Linked DNA regions of Homo sapiens: all the other regions are linked to region 3. The links come from fine-mapping of genetic effects on gene expression. A gene starts in region 3. Each other region holds a variant in brackets. All regions are shown on one strand. Distances are between the middles of the regions.

Region 1 (8,497 bases), 280 kb before region 3:
ATTTTTTTCAGAAATAATGAAAAGAGTCTCGTAAGCTTCCTGGCCTTAGGGTAGAAGTGGAGCCCAAGAGAAAGACAGAAGGGACACAAAATTCCTTCTTTGGATGGATATGCACAAACCAAATGTCCATTTATTTATTCCAACATACTTTGAGAAAGAAAAAAGGAAAGACTTATTTCCTTTTGTATAAGTGGTACTAGTAGTTCTTATTTATATACTACCCAATAATAAGATTAAATAGAAAGTTAAGAATCTGACTATGACCACTGACACACTTCTGTACATTTTTTTCTTTTAGGGAGCCAAGCATTTCCACATATCTAAAAAATCCTGTGCTATAATTTTTCCACATGTCTAAAGCATTTCCACATATCTAAAAAAACCTATCAGCAAAGTGTCAAAAAGAAAACTTTATAATTGCCATTTTTAAGAGCAATTCAATCAAAATCCAGCCAAAGAAAGTAAGCAAAGTTACTTCCAGTATGGAGTCTTTCAAATTTCTGTGTAACTTGGAACCAGTCTCTCAGGCCTTCTCTCTGCCTAAACATAGGCCAAAATTACATTTATGTTATACTATGGCTGCCCCAGGATCAAGGAAAGCAAACATTGTAGCCTATTCCTCTCAGAGTTCGAGTGGAAAAATGGGCCTGTGCCCCTCTGCTCTGTGATTTCCAATACGACATGGTGAGTCCATGGTGCCTCATTTCCTTCCTGATGCCCCCGTGTGTAACCAGTATTCTCATTATCATGCTTCAGATATTAACCAGAAACTACATTATTCTTACTGTTGTTTGGGAAAAAAAGAAAGAATTTACATGTTGTTTTTGTGTTTTATTTTAAAAGATTGGAAAAAGCACCTTCATATATGATTATATCAGCTCTTTCTCAAGGCCTAGTACAAGAGGTCACATTATCAAACACTTTGGTACTGCACACCCCATAATGCATTCCCCCACTATGGTGTTTCTGATTGCAGGACAACATTATTAAGTTAAGGCTTAATGTTCAAATATTTTGCAATTGTAAACTTAATTTTCAACACTGGCTCTCTATTGGTCAATTTGTTTTTGAAGTCAGGCTTCAGAATTTTATTCAAATTATTGGCGTTAAGTTGCTCTTTTTCTATTAAGTGTCTTTGAAGAATTATTTTTGGCATTTATTTGCTATCTTGTAACAAAATATATAATGGTTTAGCATAAACTCCACATTGAGCTGATTTCAATGCTTGTTGCCAGACCATTTATTTCATGATTTTCCCCATTTTTATCTTTTAATTTTGCTTCCTTCCTCTTTTATTAATGAGTGATTTTTAAAAGAAGAGCACACGTTTGGCATATTTTCTAAGGTCTAATATACCCAAGGATGTATTTATGCTACCTTCACACAAGAAGGACCATTTGTGAATAAAATTGTTGAATACTAAATTGTTCTCTTCAAAACTGTAGACATTGCTGCATCTAGCGAAAAAGGGCAATTTTTCATTCCTCTTAATTGGTAATTTTCTTTCCACAGTCCTCATTTTAATTTTCTCCATTTATTCCCATAAGGTATATGATTGAGCCATACTTCCTCAAAAGTCAGAGTATGTGGAATCTTTATTGTCTTGGGATATTGATGAATTTCTTTCTTGGTTGCACAATTAGGAGGCATTTTCTAGTAGATATACACATGGTGTACCTCATCTGTGCAGAGATAGCATCTTCACCTATCCTTGTCTTCTGATATCTGATGCTGTAAACTCATGGAACATATGAAAACACACCAAAGCACACTACTTCCGAGGACAATGACCTCTTCCCTGTCCTGCAGTATGTCACAAAACTCACAAGATGTTGTGAGTCCCTGCCAGTGCCCTCGGTTGTCGCTCTGCGCAGATCCTTGCCTAACTTCCTCTCATGAATTGCTTTCTCTGAGTGAATAAAGAAAGGTGGTTAGTGAAAAGTAGGAGAAGTGGATTGTGCTAAAAGGTGAAAGAGTTTGTACGACTGCAGTGTTGTGGTTTGCTAACTAATCCAGTTTTTATCTTATGATAGATCCTGATTCTCTGGGTCTGGGAGCAGGTGGAAGGAGAGGTTATCCTGAGGTTTTTGGTGTGTTCATAATTTTTTTAGAAAAGTATTTCATTACAAGAAGCATTGCCTGGGTAGGTAAACAAACAGACAAACAAAAATAACAACTTTTTCAGCCCTTTGCCCTTACAACATTCATTTCTAAAATTTCACCAAGTCAGGCTGGAATCAGAGTCATGGTTAGTTATCATCACTTACGTGCAGATTAATCTTAGGAAAAAATAGAAAATATTGCTAATTCCAACAAAGATATAAAATAAGAAAATGGCCATTTATTTTGAGCAAAAGAAAACAATTATTTTTCTGTTACATATTTGAAGCTTTAGTGGAATGTGAAAGTTAAACTCCTTATTCACAGGACTTGTTTTACAGTTGAGACCTTTCAAGGGCCCATTCCGTTCCAAATACTAGTGCCATTAGCCAAATCTGTAGCCCTTTAGAGCAATCAGTAGGATCGAATTTCAGGAATGCAGGGAAGCCCTGCTCAGGCTAAGGGCTGCATAGGGAGCTGGCCTTGCCTTTGCAGACTCAGGTGTTCAGGTCCGCTGAGAGGCAGATGGCTTCCATGAGACAGAAAGAGTCTAGGCAGCAGGACTCCCGTTGGTGTGTAAGCCTACCGAACAGGAAGCTATAGCTCCCTTACCACCTAGGGCAGAGTGCTTCCACATCATATTTCACTGAGTCACAGTTTTCTGAGAATGTCCTAACAGTTTCATAATGACATTTTTATGTGGCTTAATTTTCCTAATTTGCTACAACTTGCATTACGTCTCTAACATTATGTCTCTACTTGCCTAAACCAAGGACCAGATGGAATATATTCTGGTCAGACATCCAGACAGTTACTATTTAGGGGATAATGTAGCCTTTTAAAATTTTTCACAAGAGAATAAGGTCGGATTTTAGTACTCTCTACTCACAGGATAAAACTTATGCCAAGATAAATTTCAGCCCCCAATATTATCTTTCAGTCGGAAACATTTCATCTTGGTTTTAGGGATCCATTTGGTTTTTCAATATTTGGTAGCAGTGAGCTAACATATAAAATGAGATATAAATATTTGGCAAAGTATATAAACAATTTCCTTGATCTAGTGCAAAAATATTGAATTTCTGTTTCAGCACAGAAATATGGTTAATGGCAATTATATTTATGATATGTAAGGATGATTATATGTTAGGACTCAAAAGAATTGTACAGTTGAGCACTTGAACATATTTCTGCTAAATCAATTTTAGTAACTAATACAATCTGAAATAAGTAACTTTTGGGAAAAAATTCTTATGAGTTTTTGGTAGATCAACTACTTCTTCAAAAGCCAAACTTAACGTCCTATTTGTTGGGCCCTGTAACATCTTCCCAGTCATTACCATACTTGATCTCATAGAATAATTGATATTCTTATTCCTTTTCTCCTTTACAGTTTCTATTTGGTTTGTGCAATGTTATTCTTAGTTCTCCCTCTACCCCTATAAATGTTCCAGCTCAGCTTGTGATAATTTCTTTCTCTTTTTCTGCTCCATAATTGTAGGTATGCTTCTAAGTTCTGCCGTATTTTGTTTTTCTGTCTCTTATACTTAGTTCTGAAAATAAAAATAAAAATACCTTCATCTGACCATGGAGGTTCAAAAAGCTGTTGTTTCAACACAGATCTCCAAATTATTCTCTTCTAAATAGTAATTCTGAATTTCTGATTGGCTGATTGCATTTCTACCTCTACAACTCATCTAACAATCCAACATAAAAATTGATAATTAAATGTATTAGTTTCTTTTTAAAACTGATTTTCCCCCTATTTTCATTTTATTTGTGTGTGAAACAGCCGTCTTCTTATCACTGAGGCTAAAATACTCCAGGCTGTCATTAATTGCATCTTACCACCCCCATCTAATTTGCCACCATGTTCTGTT[G/C]AATCTAACTGCTAAATCTCTTCCTTGGAAAAGGTTTCATCAATTTACAATTCACAGTCCCTACCAAAGTGTGTGCAAGACTTTCTCTACATTCATGTCAACATTGTATACTAAAAATGTTTTAATCTTTAGAGGGAACATTACTACCAACCTTACAGAAAATTTTCAAAAAATTATAAGAGAATTCTATGAACACTTTGTACGCTGAAAACTTAGATAACTTAGATGAAATGGACAAATTGCCAGAAAGACACAAATTATCAAAACTGACTCAAAAAGAAATAGAAAATTGGAAATAACCAACAACAAGTAAATAAATTAAATTAATAACTTAAAAGCTTCCCCCAAAGAAAATCCCAGACCCAGATGACTTCACTGGTGAATTTTAACAAACATTTACAGAATAATTAACAATTGTGAATAAATTATTCCTACAATACAAAAGATGAGAGAAAACCTCCCAATTCAATCTATGAAAACAGTATTACCCTAATATCAAAATTGGACAGACATCACAAAAAAAGAAAACAAAAGACAAATGTTTCTTGTAATTATAATTGCAAAAATCCTCAACAAAATGCTAGCAAACCAAATATAAAATGAATGAACCTTGAAAACACAAAAGAAATTTTGTGACCACTTATACGAATGTGATTCTATTTATATGAAATATCCAGAATAGGAAAACCTATCAAACCCACCAGGCACCATTTAAAAAGCATTATATACAATTAACAAGTGGGATGTAGCTGAGAAATACAAGGTTGGTTTAAATCTTAAAATCAATTAATGTAATATAGTATATCAATAAGATGAAAAACAGAAGACACAGGGTAATCTTAATAGCCACAGGAAAAACATTTTAAAAAAACCAACACCCTTTATAATAAATATACTCAACAGACTTAAAATACAAGAAAACTTTCTCAACCTAATAAAATGCATCTGTAAAAATCCCAGTACTAACATCATTTTTAATGGTGAGAGACTGAGAAAATCTTTTCTCTGAGATCAAAAACAAAATAAGAATGTCCATTCTCATCACTTCTATCCAACACTGTACTGGAGATTCTAGCCAAGGAAATAAGGCAAGAAAAAGAAATAAAGAGCATCTAGATTGGAAAGGTTGGAAAGGAAGAAGTAAAACTGTCTGTATTTATGCATTACATGGTCTTATATATAGAAAATACTAAAAAAACTCATTAAAAACTATTAAACCTAAAAAATGAATTCAACGAAATTTTAGGATACAAGATTAATACACAAAAATCAGTTGCATTTCTCTATATTAGCAATAAAAATACAAAAAAATGAAATTAAGAAAATAATTCAATTTACAATGGCATCAAAAGGAATAAACTATTTAGGAATATATTTAATCAAGGAAGTGTGTGATTTATAAACTGAACACTACAGAACATTGTTTAAAAAATTAAAGGAGACCTAAATAAACAGAAAGACATCAAATGTTAATTGATCAGATAACTCAATATTGTTAGATAAAAAGACTCCAAAAATTATCTACAGATTCAGAACAATTCCTCTCAAAATTTCAGCTGGATTCTTTGTAGAAATTCACAATCTGGTCCTAAAATTTATATGTAAATACAAGGGCCAAGAGTAGCCCAATAAATCCTTAAAAAGAAGAACAAACTTGGATAACTCACATTCCCTGAATTTAAAACTAACTATAAACTATAGTAATAAAGGCAGCATGGTACTGACTATATATATGTGTGTGTATATATATATATATATATGTGTGTGTGTGTGTATATATATATATGTGTATATATATATATGTGTATATATATATATGTGTGTATATATATATATATATATATATATATACCAATATAATTTAATTTAGAGTCTAGAAGTATGCCCAATTGGTACCCTATATCTAGAATTGTCTATGTCTAGAAAAGAACCAAGGCAATTCAAATGATAAAAATTGTCTTTTTAGCAAATGGTACTGGAGCAAGTGGTATTCACATGCAAAAGAAGGAAGTGGACTTCTTCCTTCAATCTTTGAAGAATTAAATCAAAATAGATTATAGCTAAAACTATAAAACTCTCAAAAGAAAATATAGGAGTAAATCTTCATAAGTTTGGGTTAGGAAAGCCTTCTTAGACACAGAAGTACAAGTAATGAAACAAAAATAAATAAATTGGACTTGATCAAAATTAAAAACTTGTGTGCTTCAATGGACATCATCAAGAAAATGGAAAGACAACTCACAGAAAAGAAGAGAATGTTTGAAAATTATTATCTAACAAGGGACTTGTTTCAAGAATATATAAAGAGCTGTTTGCACTTAACAACAACAAGACAAGCAACCCAATTTAAAAAATGGCAATAGATTTGAACAGATATTTTGCAGAATAATTACAATAAAAAAGAGAATCTAGGCCTAGAGTCTGTACTCTTGACTTACTTAGACAGTAAGTAGTGTTGGTTGGTATATGGAAAAACTGAAACCCTTATATATTGCTGGTGGGAATGAAAACTGTTACAGATGTTTTGGAAAACAGTTTGGCAGTTCTTCAAATGTTAAATATGCCAGTGATTCCACTCCAAGGTAAATACCTAACATATAAATATGGGCATGAATGTTCATAGCATCACGTTCATAATACCCAAAAATGGAAACAACCTAAATATTCATAAACTGATGAATGGATCAATAAAGTGGAACATTATTTGGCAATAAAAAACAATAAAATACTGATATGTACTACAAAATGGATGAGCCTTGAAAAGATTAGGCTAAGTGAAAGAAGCTGGTCATGAAAAACCATTTTGTGAACATTAAATGAATGTGATTTCATTTATATGAAATATCGAGAATAGGAAAATTCACTGAGGCAGAAAGAAGATTAATGTTTGGGAATGGGGGAAATGGCACATGATGCTAATCGGTAGCATTATCACTTTTGTGGGGTGATGAAAATGTTTTCAAATTGTTTCAGAACTCTGAATATATTAAAACAATGAATTGTATACTTTATGTGGGTGAATTGAATGATATGTAAATTATATATCAACAAGAGTGTGAAATGTTTGCAATCAAAGTGAAAAAAATACATATCATTTGGATTTCATTTGTTATATATTTGACTATGTGAAAGTGAGCATCTTTTAATATGATTATAAGCCATTATAATTAACTATTTATTGAGTACTCAATTTGTTTTTCTTTTTTTTTTTTTCTTTTATTATTATACTTTAAGTTTTAGGGTACATGTGCACATTGTGCAGGTTAGTTACATATGTATACATGTGCCACACTGGTGCGCTGCACCCACTAACTCGTCATCTAGCATTAGGTATATCTCCCAATGCTATCCCTCCCCCCTCCCCCGACCCCACAACAGTCCCCAGAGTGTGATGTTCCCCTTGCTGTGTCCATGTGATCTCATTGTTCAGTTCCCACCTATGAGTGAGAATATGCGGTGTTTGGTTTTTTGTTCTTGCAATAGTTTACTGAGAATGATGATTTCCAATTTCATCCATGTCCCTACAAAGGACATGAACTCATCATTTTTTATGGCTGCATAGTATTCCATGGTGTATACGTGCCACATTTTCTTAATCCAGTCTATGATTGTTGGACATTTGGGTTGGTTCCAAGTCTTTGCTATTGTGAATAGTGCCGCAATAAACATACGTGTGCCTGTGTCTTTATAGCAGCATGATTTATAGTCCTTTGGGTATATACCCAGTAATGGGACGGCTGGGTCAAATGGTATTTCTAGTTCTAGATCCCTGAGGAATCGCCACACTGACTTCCACAATGGTTGAACTAGTTTACAGTCCCACCAACAGTGTAAAAGTGTTCCTATTTCTCCACATCCTCTCCAGCACCTGTTGTTTCCTGACTTTTTAATGATTGCCATTCTAACTGGTGTGAGATGGTATCTCATTGTGGTTTTGATTTGCATTTCTCTGATGGCCAGTGATGATGAGCATTTTTTCATGTGTTTTTTGGCTGCATAAATGTCTTCTTTTGAGAAGTGTCTGTTCATGTCCTTTGCCCACTTTTTGATGGGGTTGTTTGTTTTTTTCTTGTAAATTTGTTTGAGTTCATTGTAGATTCTGGATATTAGCCGTTTGTCAGATGAGTAGGTTGCAAAAATTTTCTCCCATTCTGTAGGTTGCCTGTTCACTCTGATGGTAGTTTCTTTTGCTGTACAGAAGCTCTTTAGTTTAATTAGATCCCATTTGTCAATTTTGGCTTTTGTTGCCATTGCTTTTGGTGTTTTAGACATGAAGTCCTTGCCCATGCCTATGTCCTGAATGGTATTGCCTAGGTTTTCTTCTAGGGTTTTTATGGTTTTAGGTCTAACGTTTAAGTCTTTAATCCATCTTGAACAGGTGTTGGCTTTTCCTTATTGATTCGTAACTAAAATAGTACTTTTATTTACTAAGTAAAGTAGTACTTTGACTTATAAGTAAAATAATATATTGCCTGATGTGTGTTATGTTATACACCAGCTGTTCACTTGTATTTTAT
Region 2 (8,497 bases), 170 kb before region 3:
TAGTGAGAGAAAACAGACATAAAGAACCATATATTATAATAATTTCTTTTGTAAGAAAAGTTATACTATTATGTCCTGTTTTGTTGGGTAGTGGTGAAAAGATTGTGGTCAGAGCTAGAATGTCCCATCTTAGGAGAAACTTCCATAACCACCCATAGAAAGTAGCTACCCAATCCCTCTTTAACATGACTTAATTTTAATATTCTACATAAAACCAATCCAAATTTTATTTTTTTAAAAAGTATTTATGTACTTTATTGTCTTAACACTGAAAAGTAATGTATACAAGCAAAGAATTGCCCTTGTTATTCACAGCTGTATCTTTAGGACCAACAGTGGTGCCAGGCAGAGTTGGCCACCTAATAGGTATTCGTCACTAATAAGACATTTATCATAAAACTATGGGAGATTCAAAGATATAAATATTTAACACAGTGACCATTTCTTGGTACTGGTACTTTTTATTAATGTATTTATTAAAATTGATAAGTAAAAATTGAACTTATTTATGGCATATAAGATGATGTTTTGAAATATGTATACATTGTGGAATGACTAAGTCAAGCAAACATATGCGTTACCACACATACTTATTTCTTTGTGATGAGAACACATAAAATCTCTTCTCTTAGTGATTTTCAAATATACAATACATTGTATTAACTGTAGTCATCGTATTGTATTATAGGTACTGGTACTTTGAGTGCCCTATCTTGTGTAATCCTTAGCTCAGCCCTGGGAGGTCAGTAGTATTCTTTCCATTTTTAGAGAAATTAATAGTTCACTTCAGATCACACAGTCTGTACCAGGGCAAGATTCCAGTTAGATGCCATGCTTTAATGATTACACTGTACTATAGCCAGTGCTGAAGCAAGTACTATTGGGATTTAGGAGTGTCAGGGGATGCTTCGAGACAGAGGGATATTTTTAACTAGGTTTTGAATAAGAGGGAGACTTTTGTTCAGGTGGTGGGATGGCATACCATCCAAAGTGTGGGAGGAGGATAGCACAGAGCTTATAGAAAGCAATGAGTGGTTCAATTTGGCAGGAGTCTAAGATGAGCTACATTTGAGAAGAGGTTTTGAGAATGAGGTGAATATTATGATTAATTTGCTCCATTTTGCAGAAATGACTGGACCAATGTTGATGTTTCTTCTTATAAAGGCACTAGTCCCATTTGTGAGGGCTCCACCCCAATTACTTAATTATTTGCCAAAGACCTCACCTCCAAATATCATCACACTGGAGACTAAGCTTCAACCTAGGAATTTGGGGACACATCCTTTATCTCGGTTTCATCTCTCCCACCACATGTCCACTTTAGATCCCTTCTAGATTACAGCAAAAGCCCTGATATTCACCAACCATGCCCATACTTTTCTGTTTCTGTGCCAGGTCTCTTAATACCACTTTTGCCTGGAGCTCCTAGCTTCAGCCATATTGCCTTCTATCAACATTCTGTCTTTCCTGGCTCCTTTGAAACACCATTGGTTAAAGATCTTTCTGAATGCATCTCCCAATAATCAGATGTGCTACTAAATAAGATATGGTGTCTTCTTCATAATTATCAAGGAATCCAATATTTCTAGGTTTTTTTAAAATCAGTTTCTGAGAAAAGCTTCTCCATTATTCTTGTGGTATGCTCTCTTGTTTACATTTTGGTTTTTCTATTTCAGATAATACTGGGGATTTGCTCATGTAGTTCATCTGTATCTATATACTTGTTAAACTCTGCATAGAAACTTTCTGAAGGAAATAATAATGATAATTATTATAGCTAATCATTCCCATTTTCTATGTTATTCAAACATGCCTGTATGATGTACTAAAATTATCTCTATTACTTAGTACTGTACTTATGACAAAGTAGGAGCTCAAATAATTCTAATTTGCTGAAAACTCTACAGTCTAACTGATATGTTGGAAATAATCTACATGTTATGTCTTCATAGGAACTTCATTTATGATCATTCCTTTCTTTCCCTAAATGGTACCTAAAAAAAGATTCCATTTCACTTTTATTGAGCATCTACTCAGTGTAAGACTATTCTTTTTAATGCATGGAATGCAAGAACTGTGATAGTAACTGGCTTCATAGATCTTAGCATCAACTGTAAGGATAAGGCAAGAGTATTTACAGGTAATTGTAGGTAATAAAAACTGCAATTAGAAGCACACAAAATATTCTGTAGAATTCAAAGAAAGGAGAGATCATATCACATTAGAAGTTAAAAGAAAGATTTCATGGAATAGTTGACATATCATTCAGGCAGTGTGGCAGAAACTTCTAGTTGCCCACCTGAATATCCATTTACCCTTTCCTTTTTAGGAACAGAATTCTGATTTTTAGCTGAGCTCATTGATGCGTGAATAGAAAGACTGCATTTCACAGGCTCCCTTAAAGCTGAGTGCAATCATGTGACTAAGCACTGGCCAAAGAAATGTCAACGGAAGTGTTATGTGTGATTTCTGTCAATGTCACTTAGAAGTAGCTGACTTGCAGAGAGAAAGGAGATAAATCTTTTTTTTTTTTTTTTCATCACTATTCTGCCTTTTGTCTGTCTTTTGGCCCACACCCTCAGATATAATGGCTGGAGTTTCACAGACTATCCTGGGTCATGAGGTGACTCGAAGACGGAAAACTTGCCCTAGTCTGATAGAGCAGAAAGACAGAAATTGTGTTCTTATGAAAACATGGAATGAACTTTCTACCTCCAGACTTATTTTACACAATAATGAAATAAACTTCTAACTTATGTAAGCCCCTATTATTCAGAGATATTCTGGTCCATCCCACTAAAACAGATTCTAATCTACAGCCCTGGAGGCTTTCACTAAAGGCAGGCGGAGCAAAGTAAATGGCACACTGTTAGGAAATTTTATAATTTTACCTTTATTCTCATTTTGGTCATTCCTATAAAACCTCTGGCAATATTCCTTGTGGTCCTCTTTCCTTCCACTAACACTTAACCGTCACAACAGGCAGTCTTACTCAGTAATCAAAGATGTGGACTCTCGAGTCAAGACTCTATAGGTTAAGATCCCAGCTTGGCCTCTCATGAGCTGTGTACTTTGAGCAATGATTTAACCTTTCTCATTTCCTCAACTGCAAAATTTATACAGCAGTAAGATCCAGCTCACAGGGTTTTTGTGAAGATTAAATTAGTAAAGGATGTACAGTAAGACCATAGAACAGTAACAGGCTCACAGTAAGTGCTCAGTAAATGTTAGAGAGAAATGTGACTATCAATTCAAGAATGGCTTGTTGAATGTCAGTTATGTGTTAAGCTTTATATTCAGCTTGGGTACAAGGGAGTAAATAAATCACATTCCTTAGCAGTTCACAGTATAGTTCTCTGTGAGAAAAATATATATCTATATTTTGGGGGATGATTTTCTTCTAGCTCCATGTCCTGTTAACCACACCAAGCCAGTCTGAATTATAAAACAGTGTTTTTGTTTTGTTTTGTTTTGTTTTTGAGACAGAGTTTTGCTCTGTCACCTAGGCTGAAGTGCAGTGGTGCAATCTTGGCTCACTGCAGTCTCAACCTCCTGGGTTCAAGCAATTCTCATGCCTCAGCCTCCCAAGAAGCTGGGATTATAGGCACCCGCCACCACACCCGGCTAATTTTTGTATTTTTAGAAGAGACAGGGTTTTACCATGTTGCCCAGACTGGTCTCAAACTCCTGAGGTCAAGCAATCCACCCGCCCTGGCCTCTCAAAGTGCTGAGATTACAGGTGTGAGCCACCACACCCAGCCAACAATGTTTAATCATTGGATAAATTATACAATTCAATGCATTCTCCCCTGGCAAGAAGAAATGCCCTGGCATGGTACACAGGAAGATCAAAATGATAATATCATGAGATCTACCCCCACAAAAAATATTTGAGAGACTTCCTTTCAAAAACTTCAAATTAATTATAACTCAGTTTAGGGAGACCTGAAAATGAGTAATGACAAAGTACGGCAACATCAAAAATATCTTATATTACTATAATTTGTGCAAATGCCAAATTAAATGTTATAAGCTATCTGAAAAGAATTTTTGCGCTATGAGAAAGATGACAAAGCAATTTCCACATGGCTTCTACTGCCTGTTCATAT[G/T]TTTATACTAAAAGATACTTCCTCTATTGTCCACATGGCTTTTACCAACCCCCACTTCCACTTAGAACTATTAGAGGAAGTTGCCAAATTATTATGAGTCAGTTGTTTAGAAATTGAACATTATTATACAGGTAGCCTACCTAACTCACAGTGTGCCTAAATATGGCAATAATAACACTGACTCCAACATTGTACTCTAAGCTCTCTCAGAGGAAAATTCATAGCAGATTCTTACTTGAGATGACAAATTACGTCTCACGGCTGTAATCTCTTCCAACACACTCTCTTCAGTCACTGGGAATAATTACTGGGATATGGACAAAGAGTTCCATCCATCTGGGGTTTGGGTAAAGGACAATAGGAAGAGAAAAAAGGAGTCCCCAGGGGCTCTTGGTTCTGCATCAGCTTCTAATTGCATTTCTTACAGGGCCAGGAGATTGGTCCACATATTTCTAGTTCTACTATCCTGGCCTGTTCTTCTGGCTATGGGTTGTCTCCTCTCCCAGGCCACTGCCCTGTGAAACTACAGTTCTTCTCTAGTCTCCAGTTCCTGAATCAAGTATACAGTCCTTTGGAGCAGTGGTTTTCAACTATTTTTTTTTACATGATCTGCAGCAATAAAAGCATTTGACACCATAATTAAATAAATATGTACCTCTACATAGACATAAGTGAAAGAAAAGTTTTACAGGGCAAAACTCATCCTACTATGTGATATGCACACTCTATTCCATTCTATTAAAAAATGTTTGTTATCATGGCTTACTAAGTCAATTTTATGACTGTTTTATAGATTATACCTCACAGTTTGAAGAACTGTGCTTTAAACATTAAAAAAAACTTTAAAAAAAAGTCTAAAAACTAACATAAACAATTTCAAATCATCTCGAAAATGTCACACTATACTGGACATTTAGTTTATTTTGACGTTTAGGGCTTTGAAACTCCTCACTATGGAAACTTCTCTACCTCATGAAAACTGGAGAGATAAGGGTATGTTTCCTACTGCAAAATTGCCACTGTCCAGACACACTATTTCTCTGGCCCCTAGAAATAAGGGATGAGCATGTGACCCTTTCAGTTTCTTGGTTTGGAGCAAGAATTCATTCTGGCAGCATAAATTAACATTGGCTGCATGGGTAGTGGTACAACAGAGTACACTGTTCATTGTGGAATGGGCCTGGGTGCCACATGTTGCACCCCGTAGCCAGCAAGAAGGATAACAGTATCTGCATCCACATGGTGTTTGGTGGTGTGGTTTTAGCTGTAATCATTGTGTCCAGCCTCCTTTTATCCTTACCTTGCCCATGTCTGATTCTCCAGCCTTTCTAGTAGTTCCCTTTCTTTTTAAATCTGCCACTGTGTAAGTTGGTTTCTCTGGTTTGCAATGACTTGCAATCTATTTCCCTGAGGTTTAACTCAACATTAGGGATTTTTCCTCTGCTTTATGCAAAAGAACACTATCTCAGAGATTCTTTGCAAAAATATTCATTAGAGGCCTGTGAAGGAAAGGATGGGAACATTGAGAGGTGAAAGTTTGATAGGAGAATTGATAATTCAGCTTGCTGGTGAGAGAGTAAGTAGAGAAAGAATCTATCTTGGGATTTTTTCACCTTCCTTTCTTCAACAGGATCCTCATTATATCCCTTCTACTGTCAAAAATCCTGGTTGGGGTCAGGGTCGGGCAACAAAAGACCAATATTCAGTGAGGGAGAAAAGGGAAGGCAGTCATAAGCAATGAAAGAGAAGGGAGCCCTAGTTGTATCATTGGGGAATAAAACTAATTCATTATGGCCACTCCGTTTCACATGCTGGGGGCCCGTCCTGGGTATGTACAAGAAAAGAAATGTGTATGAAGCAAAAATGTGTCTAATGCCATCTGCAGTCATCTAAAGACCAGTGTAAAGAAGCATGTATTTTTCTGCATAAGTATCATTATTATTATCAAGATTATTTAGTATTTGTTAATAGACTGTGAGATCTAGTTTAATTCTTTCCAGTAACAAGCTAGATGGCCAGTGTAAATTTTCGTAGTTGATTCATCCAGTTGGTGCCTTAATTTCTGCACAACTTCTCATCAATAGGCCATAGCAAGGGGTCCTCAAATGCAAAGAAGTAGGTTTGTTGGGGAAAGTGCCCATTAAATTCCATTGTTTTCCTCTTTAGGATATTATGTTTTGACATTTCAACTGTCCTCATTGCACAAGAGTTTTCAGACTAAATGTTTGGTATATAAATCCAATAAGGATATGTTGAAAACTTTAACTCATACTTAAAATGCCACCAGTTTCCCAAATCTGTACTGGATTAACACCCACATGTAAATGTGATGATTCCTTATAACTGCTTCGAAGTTAAGTGAGCACAACTGTGTTCTTGTAGCAAATAAGCACTTGTGAAATATCGAATGAAACAAGCATGAAATACTAGTCAGTTAACAAAAATGCAAAAAAAAATGTTTTTACTACTGACTAGTAAAAATCAGTCTAAATAATTTCATTTAGACTGATTAATTTACCTTACCCAGTGAGCATGTAGATACAATTAGTAAAAATAGAATATGAATATAAATAGCAGTTTTGATGCTTAGAAAAATTTGAAAACGTGATATTTGCCAGCATTAAGCTCATGAATTTTCATTTAAAAATACAATTTTAGAAATTTTTCTTCTCTTTGCTTGCAGTGTGATATTGAGAAATAGATGTAAGGCCCAGATGTTATTCATATAAATTCTTAAGCAGTAGAGATTTTAAACAATATGAGTACATGATTAACAGGTATTGCCTGTGATTTCGGATTTGAACATGATTAAGGCTGGGCTGCCTACATCTGCTGAATTCTGAGATATGAAGGGACAGGATCTTTGGGGCATCATCTAGTTTATCCAATGAAGTATTAATGTGTTGGAAAAAAATATTTCTTGTTCATGGGCCAAACAGAGTCATGTGTCACTTAGCAATGGGGGGTCATTCTGAGAAATGGGTTGTTGGGTGATTTCATCCCTGTGTGAACATCCTAAGAATATGGCTACTAAAGTTAGCTTCCAGAAGGGACAGATAAACTTATTCTCACAAATATTTACATTATCAAGAAGAAAGGGGAAAATACTTATAATTTTTAAAATAAGAAGAGACAGTTTTAATCTTTTATCTAATTGATTTAAAAATTATTGAATTAGCTGGGCATGGTGGCACACAGCCATAGTCCTAGCTACTTGGGAGGCTAAAGTGGGAGGATCGCTTGAGCCCAGGAGTTCAACATTACAGTAAGCTGTGATCACACCACTGCACTCCAGCCTAGGTAACAGAGACACCCTATCTCTAATAATAATAATAATTTGAAGGGTTATCATAGTCAAAACAATGTGAAGATTTTTAATATGTTACTCATTTTTTTATAAATTTCTAAGTGCTACCTTATTTAGGCATGGTAACCTTGAAATATTCACATGTTTAGAGTAAAAAAAAAATGAAAAGTGAAGTGAATTAATTTTTGGAAGAGTCAGAAGTTAACCTTGGGAATGATTTCAGGTGATTAATTACCTGGGTGGCTGTGGCTGACCAGCCTTACTGGCTCTGCTTTTCTTCATCTGTGAGTCCTGAGCTAGATTATGTCACCCTAATGCCTAGAATGAGTAAATATCTTGTATTAAAACAGCACAGAAAGCAAGAATATATCATATTTACTAGAAGCTTATGATGTGCATGCAGTGTTCTTTATCATTTCATTTAATTTCCACCATAATCTTTGGTGGTAGATGGTTAAAATAAAATGCAAATAGACCAAGTTACATTGCTGTACCACACCAAGCCCAGGTGAAACCCACATGAAACTCCTAAGCCTGGCTCACCTTTACTCTTTGATTTAAAAAGTTCATTTCAAATGTCACTTCCTTTAGAAAAATTTATCTGACTTTTCCAAGAAACTCAAGAATTCTTTTCTTTAGCTGCTCAATACACTTTGTTCATTCCTTCATTATATAAACTATCATACGGATAGCGCCATGTCCACCTCCCTTTCTGAAAGAGGGGACTGTGATATTTCACGCTGTATCCCTAGAATCCATTAGTATCTGGTATACAATAGGTACTGAATATATTCGTTAAATAAATGAATGAAATATTTAACACATTTCTACAGAAATAAAAGCCAGTAAGCATACCATCAGTATATATTAAATAAGACTTACCAATCATCCAATACCAACATGTTGGCACTGCTTTTGTGAGGACATTGTAAGCAGAAATTGGATTGAGCTTTGGTATGAGGAGTCTAACATGGTTGAACTTGGCCAGTCCAAACCATACATGTATGAAATTTGATATATTGCTCAGTGGCAGAGAAGTTGTGTCCCTCTCCTTAAGAGTTGCCTAATACAGCAAGACATG
Region 3 (8,497 bases):
TAGGTATCAGGAGGGAAGGAGAGGGAAGAGCCTGGGAAAGCTAATGTCTTGCTAGAGAAAAGGCTTTGCATTGCCTTCAAGAAATGAGGGAATGCTAGTCATTAAGAAAAGAGTAAGTCATTTCTAAAGACCAGATCAATTAAAAGAATCGAAGGACTCATAATTTTCAGTGTCATCAACTTTATCCCATGTGTCACGGTCCCATTTCTCAACCAGAGTCCTGACCTTGGCATAGAAAATATGCATTTTTTAAGAGTTTAACCTTCTTTGGAGCTCTGCTACCTTCAGTCCTAGTCTTGGTCCTCAGCTTTCTCTCTCTTCTTATTGCAGGAACTGAGAGACTCAATGCTGCCAAAAAGTTCTTCCAGCCTTCACACTTAGCTTTTAGTTGCCAACTATCTTTTTTTTGGTCTTTTTCTAGAGCATCAATCAAACTTTGAAACTGTCATTCAATTCCTTTATTCTTATAATTAGTATTTCCTCCATATTTTTCAAATTCTTAATTACAGTGAAGGCATTCCTTTCCAGTAGTATATGATTCTAGTTCATCTTGCTGGAAGTTTAAAAAAACTGCCAGGGGCTATCTGTGCTCCACAGATATTAGTGGTTAGGTATTCATTATCTGCCCAACAGTGGGTGACCCAGCTCCAAAATCCATCCACATTGGCCTCCTTTCATCTTTCCTAGCAACAAATGTCACAGGTTGATTTCCCTGGAAAGCAGACTCTGAGATAAAAATCAGCACACTGAAGACTTAATAGACAGTGCTATTTTGGCTATTATTTCTTCCAATATTCTTTCTGTTCCATTCTTGTCTCATCTCTCCCTCTTGGACTCCAACTACATATTAGATCATTTGATATTGCCCTCCAGGTTACTAAAACTGTCATCATACTTTTTTCAATCTCTTCCTGTTCTTCACATTGGATAATTTCTAGTACTCTGCATGCAATTTCACTAATCATTTCTTCTGGAACCTATAATCTGAAGTTTAGATTACCCAGTGAGCATTTCACTCCAGACATTGCACTTTTAGCTTGAAAAGTGACATTTGGCTATGTTTTCAGTCATCTCCATCTCCCTGCTGGTATTCCCTATCTGCTCAGTCTTATGGCTACCCTTTCTTTTAAGACCTTGAATATACTTGTAACAACTTCTTTAAAGTTCTTTTTCTCTTAATCCTAACATCTAGATTGTCTTGAGGTCTATTTTTATATACTGGAGGATTCTGAACACAGCAGTGACACGCTCTAAATTTATGTTTTTGAAAAAGTGCCACTCTAATAGCCGTGTGGTAAATGGAGTATAAAAGTCTATGTAAATGAGGTAAATGGATAAATAGGGATACAAAAGTCAAATATTGGGCACAACTTATGATGAGTTACAGTTAGATGGAAGACGACAGTGGTTTTGTCTTAGGTGGTGGCACTGGTGTGAATGAGAGGAATTTGGTTCTGACCACCAGGTCTTGCTGATAGACTGGACAAGGACAGAAAGAGGAGTAAATTAAAGGATAAACCCCTGGTTATTGTACTCAGTTACTAAAACGGGGTTGCCATTTGCCTAGATATCAACAGGGGAGAGAAAATATTCGAGGACAGAAGAAAACTAAGAGTTCTGTTAGTACATTTAAATGTGAGGTATCTATTGAATATCCAAGTGGAGATGTCGAATAGGCACTTGTGTATGAGTATGGAGTGCAGAGTGAGGGCCTGGATGTTAAAAATTTGGAAGTCAAAGGTATATGGGTGATATTTAAAGCCACAGTCTTAGGATAATAGATGTGAGGACTGAGCTCTGGTATACTTGTATTTATAGAGGTTTGGGGAATGAGAGGAACATAGGAAACGAGCTTGAAGTGAGGTGGAAGGAGAAATAAGAGAGAGTGGTATCCCAAAGACAAAGTGAATATGGTTCAAAATAAAGGGAGTAATTGGTTTGTCAAATGTTGCTGTTAACTGGGAAAGGTGAGAAATAAGCCTTTGTTTTATCAGTCTATTGAGATTTTGGGGTTTGTTTCTGTAGCATATTAATGTATTAATCAATACTGTGTAATATACCTTCTTGATTTTCTTGGAATTTAGATTCTAAAAGTAAGCATTTAACATTAACTAATAAAGCTACTGAGAGTCCTATATGAGAAAATTTTGGGCATTTGGTCCATAATATGATCTTGTCAATTAGAACAGTTATTTTCTACTTGTCATTTGAATATTCATTTATGGGGTCTTACTCACTTTTTCTGGTAACATTTATAAAAATTATCTTAATAATTGTATTTCTGAGGATAATAATTTATCACTGAAATGTGCATTCACCTCCCTTTTGCAGCCCAGTGATGCAGAGGTTGATACACAGTTGATATTCAATAAATGGTAAATGTGCCCATCAAATATCTATTTTATTAATGTTATTTAACATGCTATTACCACAATGATTGCACCATTAAACTAGGTTGTCAAGGACCAATCTCAGACAGCACAATATATATGGAAGTTGATTTCCTTACTGAAGGGTCAGAAACCTAATTTAAAAACATGAAAGGGAAATGAAGTATGTTGACTCACGGCCATGAGGGCCACGGCAGAAGACTGTGTAGATGCCAAGGTCCTCGCTGAGGATGTCTGAAGTCTAGGCCAATCTCTAATCTCCAACCTACTCTGTGTTAGGAGGCTTTACAGGGTGGAAGGAACACTTTTATTAGTCCACCCAAAATAGGTAGGTACCTTTTGGTAATCAGGTCTTGAGGGGGTACACTTATTAGCACAAATCAGCATATCTGCATATAGAAGACCTTGCAATGGAGTGGTATCCGGAAAAAAATATCATTTTGGGTCTGACGGGTTCAGACAACACTTTTAAATGGGATCTCTCAAAGTGTGATGAGAACCAGAAAAAAATGGCTATTTCTAGTAGCTTCGGTACAATTGAGCAAGAAACACCAAAGGATGGTCTTTTCATAACTTTAAAGCAGTGTGGTTCTCAAGTAGGGGGTATATTTGCCCTCTGGGGAATATTTGGCAATGTCTGGAAACATTTTTGATTGCCATAACTAGAGGGAGGAGCGGTCACTAGGCATCTAGCGGGAGTAGAAGCCGGTGATGCTGCTAAATATCCTGCAAATGCACAAGATGCCCCATCCCCAAGAAAGAGAAATGTCCATTCCAGAAGTCAACAGTGTCAGTTGGGAAACCCTGCTTTAAAGGTTATTTTCTTAGAAGAGGACAGCTTTAATACCTAAAATCTAATTTTATGTTTAGGCCCATGCCTATCTTCGCAGGACTCAATTCCAAGGAAATTCTGTTCATAATGCATGCTTTCTAATTCCAGTTAATTATAGCGCCTTACAGTGTGCAGAAGGCAGAGGATTGTTTTATTTGAAAGTGATCCCTTTTACTTACTTAAAAACAGATATCCTTAGTTTCAATATAAAGTTCAGATTTTTGCTTTTAATAGTATTTATATTCCCAAATCCAAGTCCTCCCAGAAATAGGTTGAGATGAAGGGAGGCCAGATATCAAATCCATTCCTAGAGATATTGTGTTCTGTGGGACCGAAAAAAGACAAAACTTGAACCTTGACTGGCCCTCTAAGGATTAAATTCTGCTGCTCTTCTTAGGGTATCTATCGGACTGTCCCTTTGGTTGTAAGATACCACTGCCATCTCGAGGAGGACTGCATGCTTCTGCACAGAGCCAACAGGTAACTCGTCCTGGCGGCTCTGTGTACCCAACCACAACCCTAGACTGCCAAGAACACTGCTCATTCGAAGGCGAGCGAAGCCGCGAAGAGGGCCAGCGTTAGGGGAAGGGTGGTACAAACCCTTGTGTGAGCTGCAGCACCGGGGCAAGAACAACGGGCAGCCCAGGCGGGTCTTGGGTCTGCGAGACCACTAGGCGTTCTGCCGGCAGTCAGAACCGCGGCAGAAAGGGCGCGAGCGGGGAACTGCGGGAACGCAGCGGCCCGGGAAGCTGGAGGGGGCGGACCCGGCCGGCGAGCGCAGGCGCTCCCTGGCTCACGCGCGCACCCCGGCCCCACCACCCACCCTTACGCCGCGGCCCGCCCTCCGGGGCGGGTAAGAGAGCGCGCGAGCAGCGGTCGTCAGGACACGCCCCTTCGCCTCCGCGAGCTGGCGGGCGGGCTGGCATCGCCGGGAGGCGGGGCCGCGGCAGCCGGCTGGGTGCGACTGGGCGGCCTCGGAGCTCGCAGACGCTCGGGGGAACATGGCGGCTGCGGAGCCGGCGGTCCTTGCGCTCCCCAACAGCGGCGCCGGGGGCGCGGGGGCGCCGTCGGGCACAGTCCCGGTGCTCTTCTGTTTCTCAGTCTTCGCGCGACCCTCGTCGGTGCCACACGGGGCGGGCTACGAGCTGCTCATCCAGAAGTTCCTCAGCCTGTACGGCGACCAGATCGACATGCACCGCAAATTCGTGGTGCAGCTGTTCGCCGAGGAGTGGGGCCAGTACGTGGACTTGCCCAAGGGCTTCGCGGTGAGCGAGCGCTGCAAGGTGCGCCTCGTGCCGTTGCAGATCCAGGTGGGTCCTGCGGGAGGCCGCGCGCTTCCCTGTTCCCGAGTCGTCCCCGTCCCCGTCCCTGTCCCCGCCTTCGCCGCGCTCCTCAGGTGCCCCGAGCCGCCCGGGACCCGGGCCCTGCGCGAGTGGCTGAGTCCGAAGGGCTGCGCGTCTTTCGCAAGTTCCGGGGCCGGCTGGGGAATGCCCCTGTCCAAAGGTGATGGTCACCAGCTGTCCCCGGCGGGGGCGTGGGCCTCGTAGCTGGTTTCAGCGCCCGCGAACGCCCCCACGTGTGTGGTCCTCGGTCGCCCGCATCCGCTTTTTATGCCAGGATCAGGTCCCAGCCTCCTGCGTAACCAAAGGGCTGTGCTGTAGTAGCTGTTTTTATTTTGGGGTGATGGGTGATGCAGAATGGGGGGAAATGAGATTGTGGGGAGTATTGGTCTTAGGGTTTGTTCCTAGAGTTGTGTTAACCACTTGCGGAAACGCAAACTTTGGGAGTCAAACCCATTCCCCCCCGCCTTCCCAGGCTCTCAGGTCCTTGGGCTTAAGAGTTCCCTAACCTTAAGCAAATAACCATTTGCTTAGCCTCCTCTTAGTAAAGTGTCTACTGACTTGATTACGTTTTGTCGTCTGCATTGAAAAAGTCATTTGACTCCATGATTGTAATTCCTTCTTGAATACAAATACCCAACTTAAGCTAGACCTTGAGTTCCTGGGCCTGCTGGCTGGGAAAGTTGTTCTACCTGAGGACTACTTAACAGCATTTATTTTAAGCTGTGCTCTCATGCTAGGCGGGTTAATCTTCCGCCCTCTTTAGGATCAGATTGTTCACTGGCGAATTTATATTTTGGAAAGGAAAGAATATAAGGTATAATTTAGGTAGTACACTGTCGATATCATTTCTTTAGCTGAGAAACTGATAAGTCATTTTTTCAGAAGACCAAACTGAAATGTGGGATTCGGGGATAAAAGGTATTTTAATATTTAAGTGTCATTTTCTTTCTTTTTTGTTTTTAGTTTTTATGGGCACATAATAGTTGTACATATTTATAGGAGACGTGATATTTTGATTCAAGCATACAGTGTAGTGATCAAATCAGGGTAATTGGAATATCCATTACCTGAAACATTTATCATTTATTTCTTTGTTCCAAATTCATTTTTGTAGTTATTTTGAAATATACAATAAATTATTGTTAACTATAGTCACGCTATTGTGCTACTGAACACTAGAGCTTATTCCTATTATCTGTGTTTTTTGTACCCATTAACAGTGCCATTTTCTGAGGATTATTCCCTAGTTTTTTTCCGCTGTAGTTGGCAGCTGAATTGATGATGTTTCCTGTCACCCCAACACCTGTGCCAGAAGTGTCCAAAGCAGGTACTTTAGCTTCGATAAAGTTCCTGCATTCAGAGGACAAAGTCAGAGACTGCACTCTCTGCCAGTGGAGAACCTGGAACTGGATACAGTGATCTGATACCCCAGAATCTTACCTGCTGCTCAGATAGGGAATTGCAGTTCTTAGGTGCTTAAGACTCCTCATTTTTATGTCTTCAAGCGTTTTCGTGTCTGACACCTCTCTGCAGCCTTCCTTGTCAGTCCTTTTACGTTACTGCTGCCAGAATACTCAGATGTTGGATGCACCTTTGAGAAGTCCATTTATAAAGGCTAGAATCCAAATACTAACTGCGGAGGTCTGGGACTAAGGATGCAGACTTCTTTATGAAGCATTTCCTGTTACGGCTTGGAGGGAGGCTGGGCTCTTATCTAAGATAATGCTATTCTAAACTAGGCCCCAGCTCTGTAAGAGTCCCCGCCTTCCAAGATAGGATTTTTATATTTGAAAATTTCAGGGCCTTGGTCTGGCAACTCTTAAAAACATTCTAGAAATTAATGAAATGTATGTACCTGAAAACGCTTGTACATTCTCAAAAGGCGTTATATAATTCTGGTCACCTGTAGCTTTTGCAGTGTTTTGCTTGGTATAGGAGATTATGTATAGTTCACTTTTTTTTGGTGAGGTTTAAAATAACAATAGCATTACTCTACTCCCTCTTCAGAAGAAATTTTTCCGCCAACTAGTCTAATAATTCTTAAGCATTAGTTATATTTTTGCATTTATATAGCTTTATATTTTTAATTCTTTAAAAATATTTTCTCTTCTATATTATCTCATTTTAGTAGTTATACTTTGACTTCTTCAGCCTGATGCCTCTCCTAGCTTAGAGGTAGATAAAGGAAGGGGATAGATACATAAATATGCACACACTGTGTATCGTATATACCTTCTGATACCGATTTATGTCTATATGAGAAGAGAGAGATATATATACACACATACATATATATGCATATGTGTGTATAATCTCAGAAAGTCATGATATTTCTCATGACTACTGTACACTATATTCTTTGGAACCTAACAGCATAATCCTAGAGACTTGGATGTTTTATGGCTGTAAGAGACCATACAGTTCATTCCACAACATGTGAGTGGCAGCTTTAAATGCCTGGCACAGTGAATGCAAACTTGGATTCAATTCTTGTTCCTTACCTAATAAATGAACTTTCACTTTGAGGAAGTGCAGAAGAACATAGGGAGGTGGAGGTGAGTAACTTGCTGCAGGTTACATGGCAAGTCTCCGCATATGCCTGGCTAGCTCCTCCACAAATGCGTGTGGAGGAGCTAGCCAGGCATATGCAGAGCGTCACTTACAGCCGAACACAGCACTACTGCTTGCATGTTTAATGAGAATTGAGCAGTCTGGAAAACAAGTCACAAACTTGAGCTCTTGTTTGTTCATTTGTCTTGGTGCTGCTCCTTGTTCTTTGGAATAAATGCTTGTCACTTAGGAAGACTCAAGGTGGCCTATCGGTGAGTCCATGTTACTGGGGATGGTTGGCCCCTTCTTGAAGGCAGGGACAAAGAGCACAAGTTTGGCCACATGTAGTTCATTGCGTAAATAGTGATTTATTATTTCTCCACACTTGGGCCCTGGAGCCTCTGTGGCCCTGGCTCACGTACTGTTAGTCTAGAATGTATTCTTCATTTGCGCCGTGGTATGAGTTGCCTTCGTGCTTATTCTGACAGCTGTGGCTGATGACCTTGTGAAACACAGTGGCTGCCTTTGCCACACTGCACCCGTGCTTGTTAGTGGTTCTATGAGAACTGATCTTTAAGACCCCCCATTGCCAGTATTAGGCTGTGGTAAGTTTTTGGTGACTTCTTTTCTTAAATATTCTGTCAAAGTAACAATGTCTGCCGACAGCTCAGGTAGATGAAGGCATAGCTCATGTTTCATGCTTGGTTTGTATGTCTGCAGCTTTGCCAAATGCTTGAGATCTGATGAATTTTGAGACACGGGAAAGAATATAAATGAGAGGATTATGTAGTGGGGATTTACGTCATTTTTATGACTTAAAAGTTTTAATTTTTCAAAAGGTATTTTGTAAGTTTTAGGTAAAGGAAACATTTAACTATGGAAATTTACATAAATGTTGTATCATGCTACCACCAGTGCATTTTCCAGCCTGTGGCCAGGAAAGACAGAGCCTGCAGAGAAGAGAGGAGGAAATGGACAGTGTAAGAAGGATGCCAGTGAGGGGATTTTACTTCTGTACATAGCAGGGAAGGCTTTGGCAGCTTTCTGTGGCCAGAAGATAAGGGCGTTCCAGGGAAGGTTATTTTGACCTTTTCCCAAGATGGTTAACTGGCAGGGCATTTTGCTCCAGCTTTCATTTTCTTGGAAGTTTATTACTATTATTATTATTTTAAACAGGGGCATGAACATTTTATAGCTAGAAGAGACTGACAGGTTCATGGTGGGAAGGGAGGGAAGGCAGGAGGAAAGGAACCTTGTTCGCCTTTGGCTTGATAGTTTGAAGGTAGTGGTTTTTGATTACAAAACCTTTGCCTCAGGAGCGTGGCAGGAAGAGGGGGTAGATGAGCTAATGCTCAGAGAGGAGACAGCTGGATCCTGAGGTG

Direction of the effects. Positions count from the first base shown, and alleles are read on the strand shown. Sizes are in standard deviations (SD) of each study's normalised expression. Not every link is listed here.
With allele G in place of C in region 1, the expression in atrial appendage of the gene that starts at base 4,206 in region 3 is higher (small effect, 0.26 SD a copy in GTEx).

What was found. PIP is the estimated chance that this variant, and not a neighbour inherited with it, causes the effect.
Region 1: its variant is the best candidate, but not a certain one, in a credible set for the expression of ISOC1 in atrial appendage (GTEx, PIP 0.74).
Region 2: its variant is the best candidate, but not a certain one, in a credible set for the expression of ISOC1 in whole blood (TOPMed, PIP 0.76).

What each region holds. Positions count from the first base shown.
Region 1 is chr5:128,812,841-128,821,337 of GRCh38, forward strand. All of the region lies in intron 4 of LOC105379168 (a long non-coding RNA gene), which reads left to right. Among named protein-coding and RNA genes, the nearest start is that of SLC27A6, 150 kb to the right of the region's middle. The variant G/C (reference allele first, on the strand shown) is at 3,981.
Region 2 is chr5:128,923,673-128,932,169 of GRCh38, forward strand. The region is part of intron 6 of LOC105379168 (a long non-coding RNA gene); the gene reads left to right. Among named protein-coding and RNA genes, the nearest start is that of SLC27A6, 38 kb to the right of the region's middle. RefSeq lists a silencer at 2,341-2,541. The variant G/T (reference allele first, on the strand shown) is at 4,110.
Region 3 is chr5:129,090,544-129,099,040 of GRCh38, forward strand. ISOC1 (isochorismatase domain containing 1) reads left to right here and starts at 4,206. Exons shown (of 5, transcript NM_016048.2): 1 at 4,206-4,532. The coding sequence starts at 4,224. It overlaps LOC124901060 (a long non-coding RNA gene), which reads right to left and starts at 6,236. Exons shown (of 2, transcript XR_007058926.1): 1 at 6,006-6,236; 2 at 2,383-4,856. It overlaps MIR4633 (microRNA 4633), which reads left to right and starts at 7,145; the gene lies at 7,145-7,223. RefSeq lists a silencer at 3,824-4,603.